7 linked regions of the Homo sapiens genome follow. Changing the gene in region 2 together with the main gene of any one other region gives a genetic interaction. Each region holds a gene or a part of one and is shown on either strand. Other genes may lie near its edges. The genes, in order: POLR2B, XPO1, SPDL1, CACTIN, PSMD1, ADPRM and ASCC3.

Evidence for each region.
Region 1: changes in XPO1 (region 2) and POLR2B together harm fitness less than expected from each alone (positive genetic interaction), as found in Homo sapiens cells (one large-scale study listed by BioGRID).
Region 3: changes in XPO1 (region 2) and SPDL1 together harm fitness less than expected from each alone (positive genetic interaction), as found in Homo sapiens cells (one large-scale study listed by BioGRID).
Region 4: changes in XPO1 (region 2) and CACTIN together harm fitness less than expected from each alone (positive genetic interaction), as found in Homo sapiens cells (one large-scale study listed by BioGRID).
Region 5: changes in XPO1 (region 2) and PSMD1 together harm fitness more than expected from each alone (negative genetic interaction), as found in Homo sapiens cells (one large-scale study listed by BioGRID).
Region 6: changes in XPO1 (region 2) and ADPRM together harm fitness more than expected from each alone (negative genetic interaction), as found in Homo sapiens cells (one large-scale study listed by BioGRID).
Region 7: changes in XPO1 (region 2) and ASCC3 together harm fitness less than expected from each alone (positive genetic interaction), as found in Homo sapiens cells (one large-scale study listed by BioGRID).

What each region holds. Positions count from the first base shown.
Region 1 is NC_000004.12:56,988,896-56,992,395, forward strand, and holds part of POLR2B (DNA-directed RNA polymerase II subunit RPB2), read left to right. Parts: intron 1-1,852; coding exon 1,853-2,003; intron 2,004-3,500. UniProt on the Homo sapiens protein: Catalytic core component of RNA polymerase II (Pol II), a DNA-dependent RNA polymerase which synthesizes mRNA precursors and many functional non-coding RNAs using the four ribonucleoside triphosphates as substrates.
Region 2 is NC_000002.12:61,496,857-61,500,356, reverse strand, and holds part of XPO1 (exportin-1), read left to right. Parts: intron 1-462; coding exon 463-644; intron 645-1,443; coding exon 1,444-1,492; intron 1,493-1,564; coding exon 1,565-1,684; intron 1,685-3,349; coding exon 3,350-3,478; intron 3,479-3,500. UniProt on the Homo sapiens protein: Mediates the nuclear export of cellular proteins (cargos) bearing a leucine-rich nuclear export signal (NES) and of RNAs.
Region 3 is NC_000005.10:169,593,773-169,597,272, forward strand, and holds part of SPDL1 (protein Spindly), read left to right. Parts: intron 1-372; coding exon 373-522; intron 523-621; coding exon 622-720; intron 721-798; coding exon 799-909; intron 910-2,788; coding exon 2,789-2,929; intron 2,930-3,500. UniProt on the Homo sapiens protein: Required for the localization of dynein and dynactin to the mitotic kintochore.
Region 4 is NC_000019.10:3,610,145-3,613,467, reverse strand, and holds the end of CACTIN (splicing factor Cactin), read left to right. Parts: coding exon 1-4; exon of another isoform or gene 5-102; coding exon 103-410; exon of another isoform or gene 411-683; intron 684-1,054; coding exon 1,055-1,545; 3' UTR 1,546-2,823; downstream 2,824-3,323. UniProt on the Homo sapiens protein: Plays a role in pre-mRNA splicing by facilitating excision of a subset of introns. Required for the splicing of CDCA5/Sororin, a regulator of sister chromatid cohesion. Involved in the regulation of innate immune response.
Region 5 is NC_000002.12:231,164,867-231,168,366, reverse strand, and holds part of PSMD1 (26S proteasome non-ATPase regulatory subunit 1), read right to left. Parts: intron 3,168-3,500; coding exon 3,081-3,167; intron 2,497-3,080; coding exon 2,350-2,496; intron 1-2,349. UniProt on the Homo sapiens protein: Component of the 26S proteasome, a multiprotein complex involved in the ATP-dependent degradation of ubiquitinated proteins.
Region 6 is NC_000017.11:10,709,826-10,712,058, reverse strand, and holds the end of ADPRM (manganese-dependent ADP-ribose/CDP-alcohol diphosphatase), read right to left. Parts: intron 1,226-2,233; coding exon 915-1,225; 3' UTR 501-914; downstream 1-500. UniProt on the Homo sapiens protein: Hydrolyzes ADP-ribose, IDP-ribose, CDP-glycerol, CDP-choline and CDP-ethanolamine, but not other non-reducing ADP-sugars or CDP-glucose.
Region 7 is NC_000006.12:100,846,830-100,850,329, reverse strand, and holds part of ASCC3 (activating signal cointegrator 1 complex subunit 3), read left to right. Parts: intron 1-1,622; coding exon 1,623-2,182; intron 2,183-3,500. UniProt on the Homo sapiens protein: ATPase involved both in DNA repair and rescue of stalled ribosomes. 3'-5' DNA helicase involved in repair of alkylated DNA: promotes DNA unwinding to generate single-stranded substrate needed for ALKBH3, enabling ALKBH3 to process alkylated N3-methylcytosine (3mC) within double-stranded regions.

The sequences.
Region 1 (3,500 bases), on a different chromosome or scaffold from region 2:
TGTGGTAGATTGCTCAAGGATAAAATACTCTATTGTGAACTGTCATAGCATTTATCATTTGTTACAAAATAAATTATTTGATTTTTAAGTTTAAATTGACTGTAGATACTTTGGCTATTGAGAAATGAATTTTGATTTTTTTTTACTTTTTAATATCAAGTGATCTTGTGAATGTGATATTAGTTAATATCACAAGTAACTTCATAAGATGACTTCAGGTAAAATAAACAGAGTAGAGATCATAAATATGAAATATTTATATAGTTTAGGTGTTTAAGCACCATTCTAATGATTTTGGGTAAAGTAGCTATAGTTCAGCTTCCTGGGGTAATGAAACTTATCTATAGTTTAGAAGCTATTCATCTTAAATTGCCTATAAAAAACCATGGCTATGTATATTACAGGCAATGCCATGTTTTTCTTACAATATCAATGGCTAATCCACATGGTTGTGAGAAATTTCTTTCCCATTATGTGACAGTCTCTACTGAAATAAATTGCCCCAACTGTTATTTAGGTCATACCTTACACATGTGTGATTGTCTGCTGTGTTTTCTACCATAGGACCTAACTTCTAATTTTGGTGGCCATACTTGACTGGATCAGGGTGGGGCCAATTTGTTGGCCTGTCACTGATGTGCGAGGTGACCTGATGAAGCCAAAATGGGAGGCTGATGATTAGTTGGACTCTGCATATTGTCTTAGAAAATTGATGTGAAGATGGGGGAGTCAGTAGTTGGGGAGTAGAAGCTAAGAAGGTCTCACAGATATAAGATGACAGAGGTCACAAGATATAGGAGTGGAGACGTGGAGGTGTGGTGGGGCACTTCCTACTGCTGAAGGGTGATGGGATAATCTTGAGGGTTGTGCTACATCCTCCAGCCTCTGTGATGCCCAGCTTTGCAGCTGTCCCTGGATGGTAATAGGGAGTGATCTGTTGAGATCCTCTTGCACGTGTATCTACTTGTCTCTGTATGTCTTTCCCCACCCCTCACCTGAAAAGTATCTGTTCCTTATAAATATGATGTCTGCTTTTTAGATTGCAGCTCTCTCAGCCATGCTGCATTTTTATCACCAGTCTTTTGCTGAGTATTTTTATGTAAAGACTTATTCTTCTTATCCTACCTTTAAGAATTCAAAATAGAACTAATGATCTATAACCTAAAGTTGGCATTCTCATGCATTATTTTAGTCATTAATATCACTACCCTCCGTCCTATTCAAATGAAAGTTCTTATTGTTATCTTTGACTTTTCTTTAGTTTTCTCTCCTGACATATTTGTCAAGAAGTACTTCAAAGAGGTGGAATAAAATTTGTCCATAAAGGGCATAAAGTTTTTTTTTTTCTTTGAGATAGGGTTTCGCTGTCTCCTAGGCTGGAGTGCAATGATGCAATCATGACTCAATGCAGCCTCAAACTCCTGGGCTCAAGTGATCCCCCTACCTCATCCTCTTGAATATGTGGGACTATAGGCACATGCCACCATGCCTGGCTAATTTTTTTCTTATTTGTTGAAATGAGGTCTCATTGCGTTGCCCAGGCTGAACTCAAGCAATCCTCCTGCCTTGGCCTCCCAGGAGCTGGGATCCTTATAGTTCTTATATTGTGCTTTAAGTATTTTACCCCCAAATATAAGCTGCTTTTCCCCAAATAATAAGTTCTACAAAGAAAATATGCCCGGTTTCATCCTTTTTAAGATACCTCATAGTGTCTTGTTTAGTGGTTGACATATAATGGTTGGTATTTTATGACTGTTTCTTGAATAATGAAAATGGGGAAATAATGAAAATGGGGAATTATGCTAGAAATTATCACTGAGTTGCAACTGACTGAACTCAAATATTTTCCCAGTTCCTATTTTGACGAGAAAGGCTTGGTTAGACAACAGCTGGATTCTTTTGATGAGTTTATTCAGATGTCTGTTCAAAGAATTGTGGAAGACGCTCCTCCTATAGACCTACAGGCTGAAGCTCAGCATGCTAGTGGAGAAGTTGAAGAACCGGTAAGATAGTTCTAATAGTTACACAGGTACAAGAAGCGTATTGGTTTGAAATTTTAGCCCTTCTCTTACCTGGCTTAAAGGTTAAAAAAAGTCAGTTGGAGCTTTTAGCAAAGTACTTACAGCACCGTCAATCACTTTCTGATTTATTTTCTCTAATGAAGAGGTGTGTTTTTTTGCAAGTTATCCCATCCTTATTCACATAGTAGGTATTGAATAGCTGGGAAGAGAGGACTCTGAAATATGAACAAATAAGAGAAGTGAGCCAGAGATGGTCACATTGCTTTAGATAGATAACCCCGCTTTTTTCTCTCACAGTGTAAAAATAATAAAAAATGTTTGAAGGAATTTTCATCTGATTTTATATATTGCATGAAGTACATTATTATAACCATATGAGATAAGAAAGGAAAATCACCCAAACATAGCAGCTATCTTTACTAAGTTTCTTGTAGCTTTTGCTCACATATATGCAGGTTTTTTAGCATTGTTAAAATCATACTAAGGGTATAATTTTATAATTTGGTTTTACATGAGTGATTATAAGAAGGATGTAGTCCAAAATAATGACTGTCCCAGTTTTAGAGAAGTTGAGAGGCAGCTGTTGGAACATATTGGACTTTGAGAGACAGGGAAAACTGAGAAACAAAGTGAGGTAGGGAAAGCCCCCAAAATAGAGCTAGACACAGGGAGAGTTCATTGTTTCTAGCCTGATCAGTTTCTCTTCTGTGTAGCTTATCTCCTAAGTGCTGGTCTGTTATTTCCATTTTAGTTGGACATGCTGTACAGAATTTTGCTGTTAAGAATGAAAGTGATTGGCTCTTCTAGGGCTGTGCTGGAAAGGGGGACATTAAGTTTCTTTTTTATTCTTGGGTCATTTTTTTCTTTTTTACAGGGTCTATAGGTGCCCACCACCATGCTTGGCTAATTTTTTTGTATTTTTAGTAGAGATGGTGTTTCACATGTTGGCCAGGCCGATCTCCAACTCCTGACCTCAAGTGATCCACCTGCTTCAGCCTCCCAGAGTGCTGAGATTATAGGCATGAGCCACTGCACCTGGCTTGTTGGGTCATTTTTTCTTCATGGTCTTTGTATAACAAGCCAGATAACAATATAACATAGCAAATTGAACGTGCCAGTAACAGAAGTACTAAAAGAGGAGTAGATCTCTAACACCTAGTTATCAGAGCTTAGTAGAAAAGATGGAAGAGACTTAAATTTACTATGAAGAACTCTCTTAGAAGAGAAAAGGTGCTTAGTCATTTCAGCAAGGAAATATTTGGTGTGGCCGGTGCGATGGCTCATGCCTATAATTTTAGCACTTTGGGAGGCCGAGGCGGGCAGATCACCTGAGCTCAAGAGTTTGAGACCAGCCTGGCCAATATGGTGAAACCCCGTCTCTACTAGTAAAGTACAAAAATTAGCCGGGTGTGGTGCCAGGCACCTGTAGTCCCAGCTACTAGGGAGGCTGAGACAGGAGAATTGCTTGAACGTGGGAGA
Region 2 (3,500 bases):
CTCCTACCTCGGCCTCCCAAAGTGCTGGGATTACAGGCACGAGCTACCACGCCCAGCCTGGCCAGGCTGTTCTCAGACTCCTGGCCTCAAGTGATCTGCCCACCCTGGCTCCCCACAAAGTGCTGGGATTACAGGCATGAGCAACCGCGCAAGGCCTCCTAGAATAATTTCTACATATCTATCAGGCAGATACTAATACACAGACAGACCCATTAGACGGATTGGACCTTTCATTAGGATAATTGAAAAGGGTCCTGCGGTGATTAAGATAAAAGACTTTGTGTTTTGTTTTCTACCCAGTAGGGTGAAGAGGGTGGCACATTTCTTCCTTTAATAAAGGAGGAGAAAATGAAAAGTGATTTATCCTTACTCCTGCCTTTATCCATTACATAATTTCTTTGAAGTTTGTTTTATTTGCCTTTGAGAAATGAAGTGCGATTAACATTTCATGTCTTGTTTTAGATACTGAAACAAGAATGGCCCAAACATTGGCCAACTTTTATCAGTGATATTGTTGGAGCAAGTAGGACCAGCGAAAGTCTCTGTCAAAATAATATGGTGATTCTTAAACTCTTGAGTGAAGAAGTATTTGATTTCTCTAGTGGACAGATAACCCAAGTCAAATCTAAGCATTTAAAAGACAGGCAAGTAATAATTATGTTTTAGAATTTTAAAGTGATTTCTCAAACAATTTCAAGCAGTTTGGATGTAAATTGTAGATATTTTAAGGAACTATGATCAGTAATATGTTAAATTGCTTGTAGTGGTTTTCAACTGCAGATTAAGAAATAGTCCTAGACGGGGCCTAATAATTTACCTCTGAAGGTTGAAAAATGAATTGTTCAAGACACACTTCAGGAATTGTTTTGTATGGTAACTAGTTTAATAGGTTCTAAGCAAATGATTTGTGTCCAAACATACGTATTAGTTATTTTATTTTATTTTGAGACAAGTCTTGCTCTATTGCCTGGGGTGGAGTGCAGCAGCGCAATCTTGGCTCACCACAACCCCCACCTCCTGGATTGAGGTGATTTTCTTGCCTCAGTTTCCCAAATAGCTGTGACTGCAGGTGCATGCCACAGAGCCTGGCCTCAAATCAGTTATTGTCTCTGCTTCTTTTCAGTTCCCCAATTGTTAACAATAGTGTTCTTTTTAAAACAAAACAGAAAACTAGATTTGCCTCTAATAGTAAGCAACTGGTATAAACTATAGTTATACTTCCATTAAGTTTTAAACATTTGTTGTAGTCATTAGGAAATCTTTTTCCCCTTGGGTTGCCCAGGCTGGTCTCAAACAATCCTTCTGCCATGGCCTCCCAAAGTTCTGCGATTACAGGCATGAGCCACTGTACTGGGCTTTAATCATTTTTATTAGTATTATAGATAACTGATACTTATTTCTGTGTCTTCTAAATCTGATATTTTTGTGTGTTTTTTTTTTTAGCATGTGCAATGAATTCTCACAGATATTTCAACTGTGTCAGTTTGTAATGGTAAGTGTTTTTAATTTCATTTTTAAAAACAATAATAGGAAAGCAATTATTTACAAGTGTGTTTTGTTATAGGAAAATTCTCAAAATGCTCCACTTGTACATGCAACCTTGGAAACATTGCTCAGATTTCTGAACTGGATTCCCCTGGGATATATTTTTGAGACCAAATTAATCAGCACATTGATTTATAAGGTACAGTGAATACATTTCAGTTATTTGTCACCGGATAGCCACATATATTCTTTTCACATGTAAAGCTCTCATCTCTGCATTCTAAACCTTATTCAACCTTGTTTCTAACACGAGGACGCTGCTCAGGAGAAATTTCCCATATTCACACCTAGTAAATTATTTAAAGTGAGTTTCAAATCTGATTCTGCCACTTAGACCATGTAATTTTATGAATTCATTTTGAACAATGGATTTGATTATATTGCTTTTAGTTTGAGTAAGTTACAGTGAGGTAAGTCAAGTGCTATTTCTGAAAAATGAAAAGTTCATCTTTTAACTGATAATTTAAAATTGATACCATGTTATGGCTTAAGTTCTATAATGGTTTAGCCTGGGCAAGTTGGTGAAACCGGTCTCTACTAAAAATACAAAACAGCCAGGCGTGGTGGTGTATGCCTGTAGTCCCAGCTACTCGGGAGGCTGTGGCAGGAGAATCTCAAACTCAGGAGGCAGAAGGTGCAGTGAGCCAAGATCGTGCCACTGCACTCCAGCCTGGGCAACAGAGCGAGACCCTGTCTCAAAATAAGTAAAGTTCTACAGTGGTTTATCCAGAGATAATCACTGTTACCAGTTGGTTGTATTATATTTTCAGATGTTTTCTTGACTGATATAATGAATAAATTAAGTATCTAATTGGAACATTATAACTTGACCTCTTCAACTTCGTAGTTTAGTTTGGTAAGATAATATGGATTTATAGTATTTGAATGATCAGTTTATTGCTTAATTATGTAAAAACCTTTCTATTGTCAACAGTCCTACAGAGAACATTCTCAGACATAAGATATTATGCAATTGTCCAAACATTAATTTATTTAAATATTTTAATGTTTAATCACCAGATTATTAGGTATGTTTAATTTTAAGGTTTTAATGCCCCCTGATTTCCAACCCCAGACGATAACTGTTTATCTTCTCAACAATAGAATATATAAGCCAATTTTCCCATATTCTTATTACTCTTAGATACATTGACCATTTCCCAAAATTCTAAGCAATCACAAGTTTTAGGTCCTGTGTAATTACACAGAAAGTATAACATTCCTAAAAGTCATATCACAGATTCTAGGAAAGTTGTTAAGGAGCCTTGTTATTTTAGGACACATCAAAAGAAAGCAGTTTAGGCCGGGCGCTGTGGCTCACGCCTGTAATCCCAGCACTTTGGGAGGTCGAGGTGAGCGGATCACGAGGTCAGGAGATCGAGACCAGCCTGGCCCAACGTGGCAAAACCCTGTCTCTACTAAAAATACAAAAATTAGCCGGGCGTGGTGGCATGCATGTGTAGTCCCAGCTATTTGAGAGGCTGAGGCAGGAGAATCGCTTGAATCCAAGAGGTGAGGTTGCAGTGAGCCGAGATCAAGCCCCTGCATTTCAGCCTGGGCGAGCGAGACTCTGTCTCAAAAAAACAAAAAAAGTTTGCTCCTAAAGCATTTACTGTATACTAGGTAGGCAATAAAATTCCCTCTCAGTATATCTGCATGATAAAATATGTTCATTCACTTGGCCTGTTTTTGACATCTACCCCTATATTTAATTGTTAAAGCCTTTTTCCTTTTAATTGTGAATTTTAAGTAAAGTGTGTATCAGGCCAATTAATTTTATGGTTCCCTCCCCCCTTTTAAATAGTTCCTGAATGTTCCAATGTTTCGAAATGTCTCTCTGAAGTGCCTCACTGAGATTGCTGGTGTGAGTGTAAGCCAATATGAAGAACAATTTGTAACACTATTTACTCTGACAATGATGCAACTAAAGCAGGTAATATAATACTATCTTGAAA
Region 3 (3,500 bases), on a different chromosome or scaffold from region 2:
ATGAAACGTCTGGAAGAATTTAGAGGCATATACTCTGATCCCAGATTTTATCGTAAGAGCCCAGTGTAAAACGTTGGCTCAGTGGAAGTTGAAATGCATGTGAACTTGGTTTTTTCATTGAAAGCTAAGGTTAATTAAAAATTAAAGCCTGAAATTGATAGAGGAAAAAGGGCAGTCTCTAAAGCCATTTGTTTCCTTGTTGAAAAATTTAACAGTAATAGTAATTTCTATTATTTTAGAATGTACCTGACAACTTTTGACTGGTTCTTTAGTTTTAATTTTGGATGTGAACCACAACTGAGATAAACTGAGCAGCTGCCAAATGAAAGATTATTCAAGAGAATTTCCTCCTTTTCAATTCCTGTTAAATAGACCACCCTCAAAGAAGAAGTGAATGAACTACAATACAGACAAGAACAGCTAGAACTTCTTATTACTAACCTAATGCGCCAGGTAGACCGGCTTAAAGAGGAAAAAGAGGAGCGAGAGAAAGAAGCAGTTTCTTACTATAATGCCCTAGAGGTACTATGATTACAGTAACATCATGTTTTCCAATTTATCATAACTTATTTTCTTGCTAATGTAATCTCTGTTGCCTAAATTGTTTTCTTTTGAATTTAGAAAGCTCGTGTAGCAAATCAAGATCTTCAGGTACAGTTGGACCAGGCACTCCAGCAAGCCTTGGATCCCAATAGTAAAGGCAACTCTTTGTTTGCAGAGGTACTTATAAGTATCCTAACTACTAAATTGGTATTTTCATTTACTACCAGAACAATTAAGCATGTTAATATTTTGTAGGTGGAAGATCGAAGGGCAGCAATGGAACGTCAGCTCATCAGTATGAAAGTCAAGTATCAGTCACTAAAGAAGCAAAATGTATTTAACAGAGAACAGATGCAGAGAATGAAGGTATAGAACTTTCACTATCAAAGGTTTATTAAACAAATTTTGTGTCAGCATTACATGTATGAATACATCAAAGAAACTAGCTTTTTCTGCAAGGAGTGTACTTATATAGTTGTTTCTAGAACTGCATGATTTCAAAAAATCAATTTTGAAATTAAAAGATTCATTTATAGTTTAAAAATCTTGGAATAAATATTTAGTAATAGTATATTTAGCAATGATTATTGTTTGTTTTAATGGTTACTCACTAGCTTTGACTTAAATCTTTCTTTGTGGAGTAGAAGAAAGAAAAGTATTTATTTCTTATTCTTGGCCTGATGTCTTTCCAAGCATAGCCCTAGGGTTCCTACTTCAGCTGAAACTCGCTGCCTCACCATTCCTCTGCTCTTTCACCAAGGCTTATTATGGAGTGAAATTTGGATTATTCAGGGTTCCCTTTCCTTGTAGCTCCTCAAGTCAAGCACATAGACCCTTTTAATTTTACGGGTTTTGTTGGTTGTCATTCTAGCCAAATAAGAGGTAGCAGAAAAACATGTGGGAATTAGAAAGATTTCAGTATTGTAACAGTCCTTAGAATCCTGATCCCTCATCCATTGTGCCTCACTCTACTGAGGTAGTAATTGGAATCTGGAAAGGCTTCCTTCCTTTTATTCAGAATCATGGGCTTTGCCAAAGAAATGGGAAAGGTTAATGATTAAATTTGGGAGTTAGGTGGATTTGGGTTTGAATCATAGTTTTGTCACTTGCTAGCTCTGTGACCTTGGACAAGTATTTTAACTTTGAAAGCAACAGTACCTCATCTATTAAGTGAAGATGATAGAACCCCCTCTTAGAATTGTCCTACAGTTAAATGAAAGTGTAGTAAAATACTTAACCTGCTACTTGGCAAATGAGTGTTTAATGAACAACAGCTGTGAATTTTATTTCTAAGGGTTTCCAGACTGTGCTGCCTCATTTCCTGAGACTCTCCCCTGTCTGGGAAGTATTTCTTTATAAATTTTCTCACGTTTACTTTAGTTTTCTTACAGTATTTGTTGGGGTTACTTTTAATCTACCAATGTTGCATATGTCCCAAACTATCTTTAGAGACTAGAAGCATTCTGAGTCTTAGGCTAAGTGGGCCTAGCCTCCAATCTGAAACAGGAACAAAAAGGATATCCTTTAAAATGTTAAAAGTCATCTGCAACCTCATATCATTGATTGTTTTACTCAAAACTATATTTAAACTAATAGGCACTCTTTTCAACTCCAGAAATTTCCAAAGGCAGAAAGAAATGCTAGATTTAGAGTCTACTTAATTTCCCTCTGGTAGCTTCACAACTCCAGATTTGGGGTGGGGGAGGTATAATGAGGTAAGTTGAGTGCTGCTCTAAAAAAATTAAAACATGGTATATTGAAGATTACCCCAGTATACTAAGATAGCCTTTTATCTTTGCTTTTAACGTCATTTGTGAATCTAACATTTGTGGCTGTCAGTAGCTTAGTTTTCCTCACTTAATTAAAGTTAATTAAAAATTTTGAGAAACCCATCAGAACCTTAATAAGAGCGAGTGCTTATGATAAGCAGTCTGCAGCGTTTGGCCAGGCTTACTTACCAGTTCAGTGGTGTGCTTTCAGACCACAGCCATGCAAGTCAGTTTTATGTTTCACAAAAGTACAAATAATTACATTACAGACTTCAGTTATCATTCATAAGTAGTCAAAATAAGTATTCAAATGTTATGTCTACAAAAAAATTTATTATTAGATTAGAAATAGCTAATTTAGTTTCCAAAATGAGTTCAAAGTAATATAGTACAAATTATGAATTGTATCAAAAAAGTAGTTATCAGAATCTTTCTCTCACTTAATTTTATTAGAGGGGGTAATTTTATTTTTCTAGTTACAAATTGCCACGTTGCTACAGATGAAAGGGTCTCAAACTGAATTTGAGCAGCAGGAACGGTTGCTTGCCATGTTGGAGCAGAAGAATGGTGAAATAAAACATCTTTTAGGTGAAATTAGAAATCTGGAGAAATTTAAGGTATGTATAACAGTTAAAAAAACACACATCCAAATTTTGATTTGAATATCTTAAAATTTGGTTTGTTTTTTAAGTTTAAATTATTAATAAATATCTTGTGGGAGATACTTTGAGACTAAGTAAATGGCTGTTTCTCCTTATACTTAAACATCCATTGGTGATTCTTGCCTGAAACATAATTCTGTGATGATTGCTAAATGGGTAATTCCATCACTTCTTCTATATTTATTAGTTGGAATTTTAGTAAAGGGACAGAAAAGAAAAATCTTTTTCCTCACTTACTCATTCATTTATATCAGTATAGCCTCATGGATTCTTATTTTATCCTATGAGTTATAATCCATTGCTTGCTTTATTTACTCTGATACTCAAATTGTCCCAGATTTGATAGTCGAAGTGCTCTTACTTGAATATTTCCTTACTCTATGGCACAACAAGGGTTTCCTAGCTCACCTGGCCCACTTCTGGGATTAGCATTTCTTCAAGGAACATTGGTTTATTTTAGTTGAGAATGGTATTTGTGTAAGCATTTGTGTGTGTGTGTGTGTGTGTGTGTGTGTGTGTGTAAGAA
Region 4 (3,323 bases), on a different chromosome or scaffold from region 2:
GCAGGTAGGCCCGGCCGGCACCCCGGGGACGCCGATGCAGACGCGGAGCAGGATGGAGGGGCCGTGGGCAGCCTCCGCGCCTCCAACGCTCTCTCCTCCCAGCCTGGAGCCTGAGGACGCGGCGCCCACCCCGCCCGGGCCCTCCTCGGAGGGCGGCCCCGCGGAGGCCGAGGTGGACGGCGCGACCCCGACAGAGGGCGACGGCGACGGGGACGGTGAGGGCGAGGGCGAGGGCGAGGCGGTGCTCATGGAGGAGGACCTGATCCAGCAGAGCCTGGACGACTACGACGCCGGCAGGTACAGCCCGCGGCTGCTCACGGCGCACGAGCTGCCACTGGACGCGCACGTGCTGGAACCGGATGAGGACCTGCAGCGCCTGCAGCTCTCGCGCCAGCAGCTCCAGGTCACGGGTAAGGGCGGGGCTGGAGGCCAGGGGGTGGGGCCAGTGGGGCGAGCTGGGGGCGGGGCTTCTCCAGCCTCATTTCCCGGCCGAAGCCGCTGGCGTCAGTGGGGAGCTGCTTGCTGCTTCTCCCCCGGGTCTCTGAGCGTGCATTCCGTCACCTGCACGCGCACTGGGGCGTTCCTTCATTCATCCTGGGCTTGCTGGCCCACTGGCCTTGGGGCCACAGGTGGTGGAAGCTTTTACCGGCCGCTGTCCGAGCACTCCCTGGGCAGCCTCCGTCCTAAGACAGAGGAGAAAATACTGGCTTCAGAAAACCCCTGGGCCAGGACCCCCTCGGGGGTCATGCGTGGGGCTGGATCCCGCAGCCAGGCCCTAACCACCAGGTTCTCCTGTCGCTCGGCGGGGAAGCGCGCTGCGCTTGGTCCCCACCCAGGAGGACGATAGACATGAAGACCAAGGTCCGGGGCTCGGGGCGGATGGTGTGGGTCTCCGGGTCGCCCAGGCCCTGTCCCCTCCCCATGTGCCTTAGCTCGCCCCAGCCTGTTTTCCTTTTGCGGGAGGCACCAGCGGCCGCCCCTGCCAGAGAGGCTAGGAGGGAGGCCAGGACCCAGGGGGAGGCCGAGGCCCGGGTGAACGCCGTCCCGCCCGCAGGAGACGCCAGCGAGAGCGCCGAGGACATCTTCTTCCGGCGGGCCAAGGAGGGCATGGGCCAGGACGAGGCGCAGTTCAGCGTGGAGATGCCACTCACCGGCAAGGCCTACCTGTGGGCCGACAAGTACCGGCCACGCAAGCCGCGCTTCTTCAACCGCGTGCACACGGGCTTCGAGTGGAACAAGTACAACCAGACGCACTACGACTTTGACAACCCACCGCCCAAGATCGTGCAGGGATACAAGTTCAACATCTTCTACCCCGACCTCATCGACAAGCGCTCCACGCCCGAGTACTTCCTGGAGGCCTGCGCCGACAACAAGGATTTCGCCATCCTGCGCTTCCACGCGGGGCCGCCCTACGAGGACATCGCTTTCAAGATCGTCAACCGCGAGTGGGAATACTCGCACCGCCACGGCTTCCGCTGCCAGTTTGCCAACGGCATCTTCCAGCTGTGGTTTCACTTCAAGCGCTACCGCTATCGGCGGTGACGGCCCTGGGGAACGGCAGGCAGGTGTCCTCGGGGGCACAGTAAAGGGGCTTCGGTGAAGCTGGTGGTCACTCCGGGGCCGCTGTCTGGGCTGCAGGGCCGCGGGTTCACGTCCCACCTCAGGCCGCATCTTTCTTTCGCCAGGCCTCAGTTTCCTCCTATATAAAAGGGGGGTCACCATTGAGCCTGCCATGGTGAGCTGAGGAGACACTGGGACAGGCTGGCCTAGGGTCCTGATGCAACGGAGGGGGCGCTAGGGGCATCTTTCGAGCACGAGGGTGGCCAGCAGCCGCCAGCTGACCTCACCGTCCAGGCGGACACTCTCCACCGCCCCTCAGCCAGGCTGGGTGGGGCCCACAGGGCCTGCCCCAAGTGGCGGCCACACAGGGTGTTGTGGAGATGGGCCAGAGGGGCCTGGGCTTGGCGGTGCCAGGCTCGTGAGAAGCAGGAAACTCAAGGCCAGCCCTGCCACATCACGGGGCACCCACTGGGCGTGAGGCAGAGCCCGCGGCTGTGGGGCAGCTCCAGCCCTGCCCACAGGCCACCCTCGCCCGCACAGGCAGCACTGAGGCCGGGACCCTGCTGGCGCCCGATCCGCCACTGCAGAAGAGACCCTCTGTGGACACCCACACTCTGCAGGGACTGGCCCCCAACTCACCCCGTGCTGGCTGGTGGGGTCCATTTCCCCGCAGCGGGTATGGAGGATGCGTCGAGGTCCCTGTCTCTGTCAAGGTCGTGGGAACCAAAAGTCACTGAGCCGTCCTCCCCCCACCTCTGAGCACAGGGCCTGGAGGGCAGGGGCTCCCCGAAGGCTGGGGGTTGGAGAAGGGTGAGGGGCTTCCCCCAGGGATCCCCCCACCTGGCCTGCTCACGGGGCCTTGGAGCATGAGACCAGTGACCCCGAGTTTTGCCCATATCAGGACAGTGGCTCCTTCTCACTCCCCTTTCTCAGGCCAGGAGGGCCGAGGGCCACACGGGTGCCACAGCCCAGGTCGGAGTGGCCCAGCCGGCAGGCTTGTTCTTCAGCATCCGACGGGAACATCTCCAACAGAAGCAAAACGGAAAGTGCCTCCCGGACCCCCAGAGGGCCACCCAACCTCACCAGTCACCAGCCCCAGACCACCCACAGCCCCTCCCAGACACCCCGCCTCATCTGGAAATAGTTCCGTTTGTTTCTCTAAAAAGACTTGTAGGTGGGAAAAAAAATCTTTTGTTCTCATGGAATTGGCCTATTGGCAAGATCGCATGTTTTTTTAATAAACGTTGTATTTTAGAATAATCTTAGGTTTGCAGAAATGCAGAGAGTGTAACGTGTCCGACGCCCCACACCCGCTGCCCTAGTTGCTGCTGGCATTTGTGACACAGCGCATTTGTCCCAAGGGAAGAGCCTGGGAAACAACACGGCACCCAACTGGGGCCCGGTGGTCCCTTGGGAGCTGTGTTAGTGCCCGGATCTGTCTTTGCCCCCCACCCCTCTGCCTTGCCTCCCACAGTGGGGGTGACAGTCCATTTCCCAGACGACAGGAGGGAGGGTACAAGGGTGGACACAGCTGCTGGCCTGGGCCCAGGCTCTCATGGGGGCAGCGCTTGGCCATGCCTGGGGGCATTCGTGGTGGTCCCACCTTGGGGCTGCTCCTGGCGTGGAGTGAGTGGAGGCCAGGGATGCTGCCCAATGTGCTTCAGTGCCCAGGATGAGCCTCCCCAAATGTCCTCACTGCAGTAGGCAGAGGTGCAAGGCAGATCCTGCACTCCCCTGGGGCACTGGTCACCTCCCAGCCC
Region 5 (3,500 bases), about 170 Mb from region 2:
ATGAGCGTTAGTGTGTAAGCTTTTGTGTGGGCACAGTTTTCTCTTCTCTTAGGTATGGAATGGAATTGCCGGGTCATATGATAAGACTACATTTAACTTTTTGAGGAACTGCCAAATTCTTTTTTTCCACTGTGGCTGTAACTTTACTTTCCCACTATTACTCTATGAGGGTTCCAATTTCTGCATATTCTTGTCTGTGCGGTCTTTTTGATTACAGCCATCCTGGTGGGTAGAATGTGATATCTTCTTATGGTTTTGTGTTTCTTTTTAAATTAAGAGATGGGATCTTGCTATGTTGCCTAAGCTGGTGTCCAGTGGCTGTTCATAGGCACAATCATATTGCACTACAGCCTCGAGCTACTGGGCTCAAGCAATCCTCCTGCCTTGGCCTCCCATGTAGCTGGGACTGTAAGTGGGAACCACTGCACCTGTTATGGTTTTGATTTGCATTTCCTAATGAGTAATGATGTTGAGCATCTTTTCATGTGCTTATTTGCCCATCTGTACATCTTCTTTGGAGAAATGTCTATTCAAATCATTTGCCTGTTTTAAAATTAGGTTGTCTTTTTATTGTTGAGTTGGAGGAGCTTTTCGTATGTTCTAGATGTAACTGTCTTATCAGATAAATGATTTGAAAATATTTTCTCCTATTCTATAAAGTTTGTATTCCCTGATTTGTGTGTCCACTAAAGTCAATGCTCATTTAACTTAGTAGTCAGCTAACAACTGGACAGGAATTTCCTTAAACACTTTGGAACACAAAGTCTCCCACTCTTTGAAGGAGTGTGTGTGTGTGTGTAGGGCTATACCTTCAACAGGATTCCTCATTTCTTCCTTGCACAGACATAGGCAGTCTTTTAATTCATAGGTGGACCAACTGTTATAGCTATCTCTGACTTAATTTGAGCAAAGGCTTAGCAATCATTTAGTTTTCTACTGTGGTGTACAGTGTGCTCATATGGCCTCATGGCATTGAGCACGTGCCTCACTGTCTTAGTTCATAATTATCAAAAACACTAGTTATTTCACGTGCTTAGAGTATGCTCTAGTTGTGTCCTAATACATCTGTTCTGGATTCCCATGCTACTGGTAAGATAAGTTTACAGACACAGTTAGAATACGTTCTCTGTAAAACCGCCACCGAGATGAACCAGGTTGCAGATCAGACAGTGACTGCATTAAAGGTATCCATTGATGATTCTGTCCATTCATTTAACACTACACAGCAACTACTACAGATCAGGCAGTGCTACAGATTAGCATTTACCATTGTTTTAGGTGCTTTACATGTAACAACCTATTTAATCTCCACAACATCAACAGGAGGTAGGTAGCATTACCATATCAATTTTACAGATGAGGAAACTGAAATACAAAGATTAAATGACTTGTCTTAGTCACACAGCTAACAGTAGAAATAAAAACCCAGTTATGCCAAATTCCAGCTCTAAACCACTACATACACTATCTTGCATCCCTTGGCTTTATCTCTTCTAGCTGATAAATTAGTCAGGTTAAGACCCCGACTCACAATTATAGATAGGAGTTGCCTTTGACCCACCATCAGGTTGATAAGAATAAGTTTACTCTTGTATAAGGATAAGGATCTAGAAATCGAATCTCTGACATTTTAGACAGATCTAGCATCTGGATGTCTTGGATGGGTCTACTGATGGCGCTCTAGTTATCTACAAGAACCTGGAAGATAAAGGCAGTATCACACTCATATTTCTGATAAGCATTTGTTTTTAACATGAAGCACTCTGTCTTGGAATAAATTAAATTCCATGAAGATCCTTTTCTAACTAAAATGCAATGCATTTATGACAATGGTGTAATGAAATAGAAAAAAAAAAAAGACAACGGTGTAATTACCATAGTAATCAATACTTATTGAGCAGTCCCAAGTCTTGTTCTCAGTGCTTGTTCAATCTGTGCCTCATTTCTGAGTCAGGGATGGTAATCTCTGTTTTATAATAAAGAAAACTGAGGCAGAGAGAGATTTAGTACCTGGCCTAAGGTCACTTAGCCTGAGCAGTATACTCAAGATTCAAATCCTGTATGCTTGGCTGTAGAGTCTATATTCCTAATCAAATTGTTGTATTAGGAACTCCTACGTCGTATGTCTGTGGTAGAAGACGGGAGTTTGTAGGGTTACACAGGGAAAAGAAAAATTCTCCCAAATCTATATGAAATGGAAAAGAACATTCTCTCTTTTGTTAAATAATTTCTTAGAACTAGTGAGCTTGCTCCAATGCTTTGGAGATTTATCATTCTCTATCAATATTCTATTGTCCTATGGATTAATATCCCACTGGTATATACAGCTAAGAGTCACTGGTAACTTACTGGTTTGAAAGGCTGGTATCTACAGGTCTCCGGCATGGTTAGGACCTTAAGCTGGGCAGGCATAACTCGGGCTGGGTTATCCAATAACTGGAAGTTTGGCTCAGGTTCTTTTTTCTTCTCTTTTTCCTCCTTTTTCTCTGCCTCATCCTATAAAATAAAATTTAAAAAAAGTTCAACAGAAGTTCATTTCTGTTCCACAGAACTGAGTAACATCTGAAGTTGACTGAGCAGCTATAAGGTACAAGAGGTAGTGGTCGGTAGTAATGGAAGTACAACTAAAGTGCTATCAGACTCAGAGGAGGGAAAAGTAACTCTGCTTAGGAATGAGAATGGTATTTGACTTGGTTTTAAAGGATTAAAAAGGTTTTTCTACCAGCAGAGATCAGAAAAAGGTCTACCTAAACAAGTGATAATCCCTTTGCTTGAAAGGGTTTTTCTTTCTCCTACCTCATCATCTTGTCTGTGAAAAACCTACTTTGCCCTTCAAAACCTATTTTAGTTGTCATTTGCTCCAGGAACTTTTTACTGATTTGTACCCTTCTATTCTTCCCACAAATGGATATATTTTCGAGTCTCTTTCAAGTACAGTTTGATGATTCTACATGCTGGCAACAGGATAATTGTTTGAAGGAAGCCAAGAGCAAGGTAGAATAATATTCAACTAAGGAAGAATCTCGACCATGACAGAGACAGAGATACTTCAATCCATATGACCACCAATTTATACCTACCACTTCCATTTTCTCCTCCTCCTTTTTTTCCTTTTCTTTTTCCTTCTTTTTAGCCTTGGCAGTTATAGATAATACAGCAGTAGAAACCTGGGGAAATGAGCAGGGTAAACTGTTGTAATCCCTTACTGACATACAAACATGCAAGCCCTAGAGAACTCAGTCCTACAACACTATTCTATTTCCTAGCTGTATTACATATATATATATATATATATATATATATATATATATATATATATATATATATATATAAATATATATAAATCAAAGAATAAATGGGAAAACTAAGCAGGACATTTACTGAAATAATTTACTACTCTTGTCATCAAGTGAATCTTTAGTTCTTGGAGGCTTGTGTCCAATATAACTCTTCCCTTTTTTTTGATCTGTAGCCTACCTTGGATATGAATTTGCTCTCAT
Region 6 (2,233 bases), on a different chromosome or scaffold from region 2:
AGAACAAGTATATGTTGGTTTAAGTCGCCAGGTTTGTGGGAATTTGTTACAGCAGCCATAGAAAGCTAACACTCCTTTATATCCCTATAGTGCCCATGTATTCAACAGGCATGCTTATTTCTTATAGTTGTTTAGGCCCTGAATCAAACTTTCTCCACACCTGAATAGTCCCCATTTGCCATCTAATGTTTCTACACATAAGCCTTAGCATATATGAAAACGGTGTTAAACATGTCCCATTAGTGTATAAAGGGAGTCAGTGTAAATTTATTTACCTGCTGTAGCTTCACACAGCAATGGCTGGTGGCCCAAACAGACCAGGCCAGGTGGCACATGGCTGCACTGCCACTTGGTCCTATGAATCCCAAGAGGACTACATGACTTTTCTGGAGGCCCTTCTTACAGGGATGGGAGTGCCACACGCTTACCCGTGAAATAACTATTGGTAATTTTGTTTACAAAATGGGAATACAAGCCTATAAAAATCCAAGTATAGGTGTTCTGAGCAGAAATTGTCCAAAGCTCATTTACACAGCAGGGTGAATAGAAAAAGCTTACCTGAGCTTATATGCTGAACTTGAAGTTACATAGTTAACACATGTGAATACAATCTCCTTGTAAAAAGTTAAAAAAAATCAGGTAGGGCCAAATAAGATCCCTCATGAGGACTATATGCCCCTTATGAGGACTATACACCCCTGCCTCAGTTTCCTCCCTGGTTTGTTTCTAACTTACAATGGATACATGATCCAAAATAACATTTCTGAGTATTTTATCAACCATCACACACTGAAACTATAAATACATTTTGTTATGCAAGCTGAATACTAAACAATGAGACAGAGGATTTTTATTTTTTTGTTTAGGAGGGACAAACACAAAGCTCATTTTCTATCAAGTTAAAATAAATTAGACTAACAATGGAAGGCTCTTTCTTTCTTGTAATTCATAATTCTATCTGGAACTCTGCCTCTCCCTTTCAACATCATTTTGTCAGGATAGACATGAACTGTGCCAAAGGCTTGGCTGTCTGGAGCTGTTTCAATAACTCCTTCTAGGTTGACGTGGTATACACCAAAAGGATCCTCAGAGTAGCCACCATCATGGGTGTGACCAGCAAAGAAACACACCACACACTCATGAGACCAAATGACTGCCAGGGCATCTCTGTAGTTCCAGGCCAGGCACACATTGTCAGAGGCGTCCGGGTAAATGGGAAGATGGCCTGTTAGTTAAAGAAAAGAAGAGTTATGAGCCAATTAAGAAATATCTCTTCTATAAAAATAAATGGCTAAAAGCTAGTACTCAGAAAAAGAAAAAAAAATTGCTATCTCATTATGCAAATGAACTGAGACCAGAGAGAATTCACACACAAGAAAACTAGGCCATCTACAGCCACATCTCTGGAGCATAGAAGAAGGGTAAGACAGTTCACATGAGGCGCGACAGGCTGCTGTAGAGGCAAAACCCTGAATCTCTGAGGCCTACGTCATCTCAAGTTGCCGAAACACCGAGGAAGATCAAGGGTGTCCTATGCAGGGCAGTCTGCAAAGGCAGCCTGAAACTGGGCAGATGCTGTGCTGGAATCCAATCCAATTGATTTCCTTAAATATGAATGTTATATACACAGAATGATGTAACACTAAATAAAAGAACAGGCTGGGTGTGGTGGCTCATGCCTGTAATCCCAACACTTTGGGAGGCCAAGGCAGCCGGATCACCTGAGGTCAGGAGTTCAAGACCAGCCTGGACAACATGGTGAAACCCTGTCTCTACTAAAAATACAAAAATTAGCCAGGCGTGGTGGTATGTGCCTGTAGTTCCAGCTACTCGGGAGGCTGAGGCAGAAGAACTGCTTGAACCCGGGAGGTGGAGGTTGCAGTGAGCCAAGATCACACCACCACACTTCAGCCTGGGTGACAAAGCGAGACTCCATCTCAAAAAATAAAAATGTAAATATAAATAAATAAACAAACAGTTTAGGCATGGGCCATGGATTATGTGTCATTGACATAAACAATGCCTCCGAACTGATTTATGGGACTTTAAACACTCATGAGATCAAGGTAGCCATACCCACTTTTCAGATGAAAAACTGAGTTAAAACAGGGAAGATTTATACTGGCATCCACAGGAGATACGTGGAAGTAGAGTTAGGAGAAGTTCTAATTTCTGACAGCAACACATCTATGATCAAGCCACGGTTCTCACTCTGAAGTACAGCTCACGTTGC
Region 7 (3,500 bases), on a different chromosome or scaffold from region 2:
TCAGTATGATATAGAAATAGGCATAGAGTGGGGTAGAACGTGGTTTTTGGTGAAGAAATTCTTTTTGGCTGGAGCAGGAAATATATAATAGCCAATAAGACTGGAAAATAAAATGCTGGGGTCAGCTTCTGGCAGTGTAGGAGCTTGGATCAAGCTATAGTAAGCTGTGGAAGATTTGTGAATAATGATACTGGAGTCATGTTTCCTTCTTTTTTTTTTTTTTTTTTTTTTGATAGAGTCTCAATTCTGTCACCCAGGCTGGAGTACAGCGATGCTATCTCTGCTCACTGCAACCTCCGCCTCCTAGGTTCAAGCGGTCCTCCTGCCTCAGCCTCTCGAGTAGCTGGGATTACAGGTGTGTGGCACCACACCCAGCTAATTTTTGTATTTTTAGTAAAGACGGGATTTCACCATGTTGGCCAGGCTGTTCTCGAACTGCTGACCTCAGGTGATCCACCCACCTCGGCCTCCCAAAGTGCTGGGATTACAGGCGGGAGCAACTGCAGAGTCATGTTTTTTAGAAAGATACCAGTATTCATTACATTATTAACTTTAACAGTATTTAGGTAAGTCACATAGCTTTTGGGGCCTTTTGAAGATTTAAATTCTTCTTTTCTTCTCTAAGAATATTCTTTGAAACCCATGTCAGAAATACAGATTCTTTTTTTTATTTGAGAAAATTGGATATGAGAAAATGCCTTAAATAAATTAGAGGCTGATTCTTCTTATATTTACTTCTAGCCTCTTTTAAACAGGAGCTTTCTTTTTTATTTTATAATATGACTAACTTTATCTTCAGCTTAATAAATATCCTTGATGGTATTAAATGTTTTTGAATGAGAACTATAGAAGTATTTCTTGCCATCTCAGGTTTATGGTACAAATTGGAAAGAAAATTATAGATATTTGAGGTTTCCTTGAAGCTCCAAAAGTCTATAATTCAGATTGTTTTCTGTACCTTACTTTGGTTTATTTAACTAGCTCATCAAATCAATCTTTAAAATTAGTTTTAAAGTGAGTTTTAGCTAGTGTCTCAAGTTGTTTTTAGAAAGAAGCTGTAAGGATTGTTACTAGGTAGTTTCTGCACTTAGATACATAATAATTACTGATAATGATTTATTTACCTAAAATAGTTCTTTGGGAAATAAATAGTTCTTCAGGAATGGGTTGGTTCCTGCTCCTTAAATTGGCTATCTGTCTTTATTGTTATGTTTTTGTTGTTTTTTTTACAAGGTCTCACACTGTTGCCCAGGCTGAGTACAGTGACACAATCATGGCTCGCTGCAGCCCCAACCTTCCAGGCTCAAGCAATCCTTCCACCTCAGCCTCCTGAGTAGCTGGGACTACAGGTGCACACCACCATACCTGGCTAATTTTTAAAAATTTTTGTAGAGATGGTTCTCACCATATTGCCCAGGCTGGTCTTGAACTCCTAGACTCAAGTGATCTTCCTGCCTTGACCTTCCAGAGTGTGGGGATTATATGGAGCCATTACACCTGGTCTATTGCTATGATTTGACTGTTAGATTTACTCAGGAGAATATTTGTGGTAATTTTTTGGAAGATCGTAACTTGAACCATGATTCAATTGAGCTAATACTGTTTCTTTTGTCTTTGAATAGTTGGAACTGATAATGGGAGAGAAGCAATTGAAAGTGGGGCTGCATTTCTCTTCATGACATTTCACTTGAAGGACTCTGTTGGTCACAAGGAAACAAAGGCTATCAAACAGATGTTTGGCCCCTTTCCTTCATCATCTGCCACTGCAGCTTGTAATGCTACTAATCGAATTATTTCTCATTTTAGTCAAGATGATCTTACTGCTCTTGTGCAGATGACAGAAAAAGAACATGGCGATAGGGTTTTTTTTGGTAAAAATTTAGCATTTTCATTTGACATGCATGATTTGGACCACTTTGACGAACTGCCAATAAATGGTGAAACTCAGAAAACTATAAGCCTAGATTATAAGAAGTTTCTGAATGAACATCTCCAGGAGGCTTGCACCCCAGAACTCAAGCCTGTGGAAAAAACAAATGGCTCCTTTTTGTGGTGTGAAGTTGAAAAGTACCTAAATTCAACTTTGAAGGAAATGACTGAAGTGCCAAGAGTAGAAGATCTTTGCTGTACTTTATATGATATGCTTGCTTCTATTAAAAGTGGTGATGAACTTCAGGATGAGGTATAGTTGAAATGATTTATTTTTTTATATTAATGTGAACTATCCTAATGAAATAGTGTTTTTTAAACATGGGTGGTTAGCAAAGAAAGTTCTTTAATGTTCTGTATAGTAGTTGAATCTATAGCCAAATGGTTTCACATAGCAGGCCTGTATATACGTTCCTAATGGATAGTTACAGGAGGTCTGAAAGTGTAATGAGTGTAGCAGAGGAGTAAGCAGACAATAGTTGGGTGTCCACATGCTCTGGTTACTGGGACAGTGCTGGTTTGATGTCAACTTAATTTTAATACTGGACAAATTGAATGAGTAATATATTTCATGAAAGATTAAGAGGGATGGCCTACTGTTGTAGAAAGGACAGGCTTTGAAATCAGTTTGTTCTTCCCTTTCCACTTACTGGTTGTGACACTTTAGGTAACTTAATCTCTCAGAAGCTCAGTTTTCTTGTTGGGCTATCTCAAGGAGACACCAATATCAAGATAGATAATTGTTATAAGGATTGAATGTGATATATGCAAAATGGTAAGTAACATGTTAAATAATCATTATGTGGTAGCTGTGATTATTTTTGTCGTTATTATTGGAATTAAGAATTTTTAAATCACATTGAGTATTGGAAATACAGAAAAAATACTAGCTGTATTTTTCAGAGAAAAATTAATTTAGAGAATTAGCTAAGTAGGTATTGGAGGACTTAACCCATAGGTGTTATGCCAACTAACATTAGTTTGGAAGTAAGATATTATATCATTAATTCTGTGATCAGTCTTTTTACTGTGAATGTTTTACACTTGGTTTAATTTTTATCAGATCTGTTCTCACTATTAAATTTTCTCTAACATTCTGAACATAATATTGTTTTAAAAATTGTGATTTACGAAGAAAATTTTACTAATATTTGCTCATCATAATTGAATACATAGTAGTTATCCAATTATGATTATAATAAACTGAAATTTATAAATATCTAATTAATGGATATTTTATTTTCTTAGTAAGCCATAAAACCATTACTTTCACTTCTGAATATCTATAGTAAGTTTGTATTTCTTAGTCTTTCACCACAATTTTAAAGTATGTAACTGAATCTGATTGTTGGAAGGGGAGTATTTGTGCTAGATTTTTTTCATAATAGCTTCATTTGTCATATATTTATTGTATGCTTATTGTATTGCTAGGTACAGTGCTATTTACTGAACATAAAAGGATGAATAAGATAGCAAACTTGTTCTCAGAATTAATTGTCTAGCAGGAGGAGACATGTCAACAAGTAACTGTACTGAAATATCATAGGTATTATAATACTACATGCAAAGAA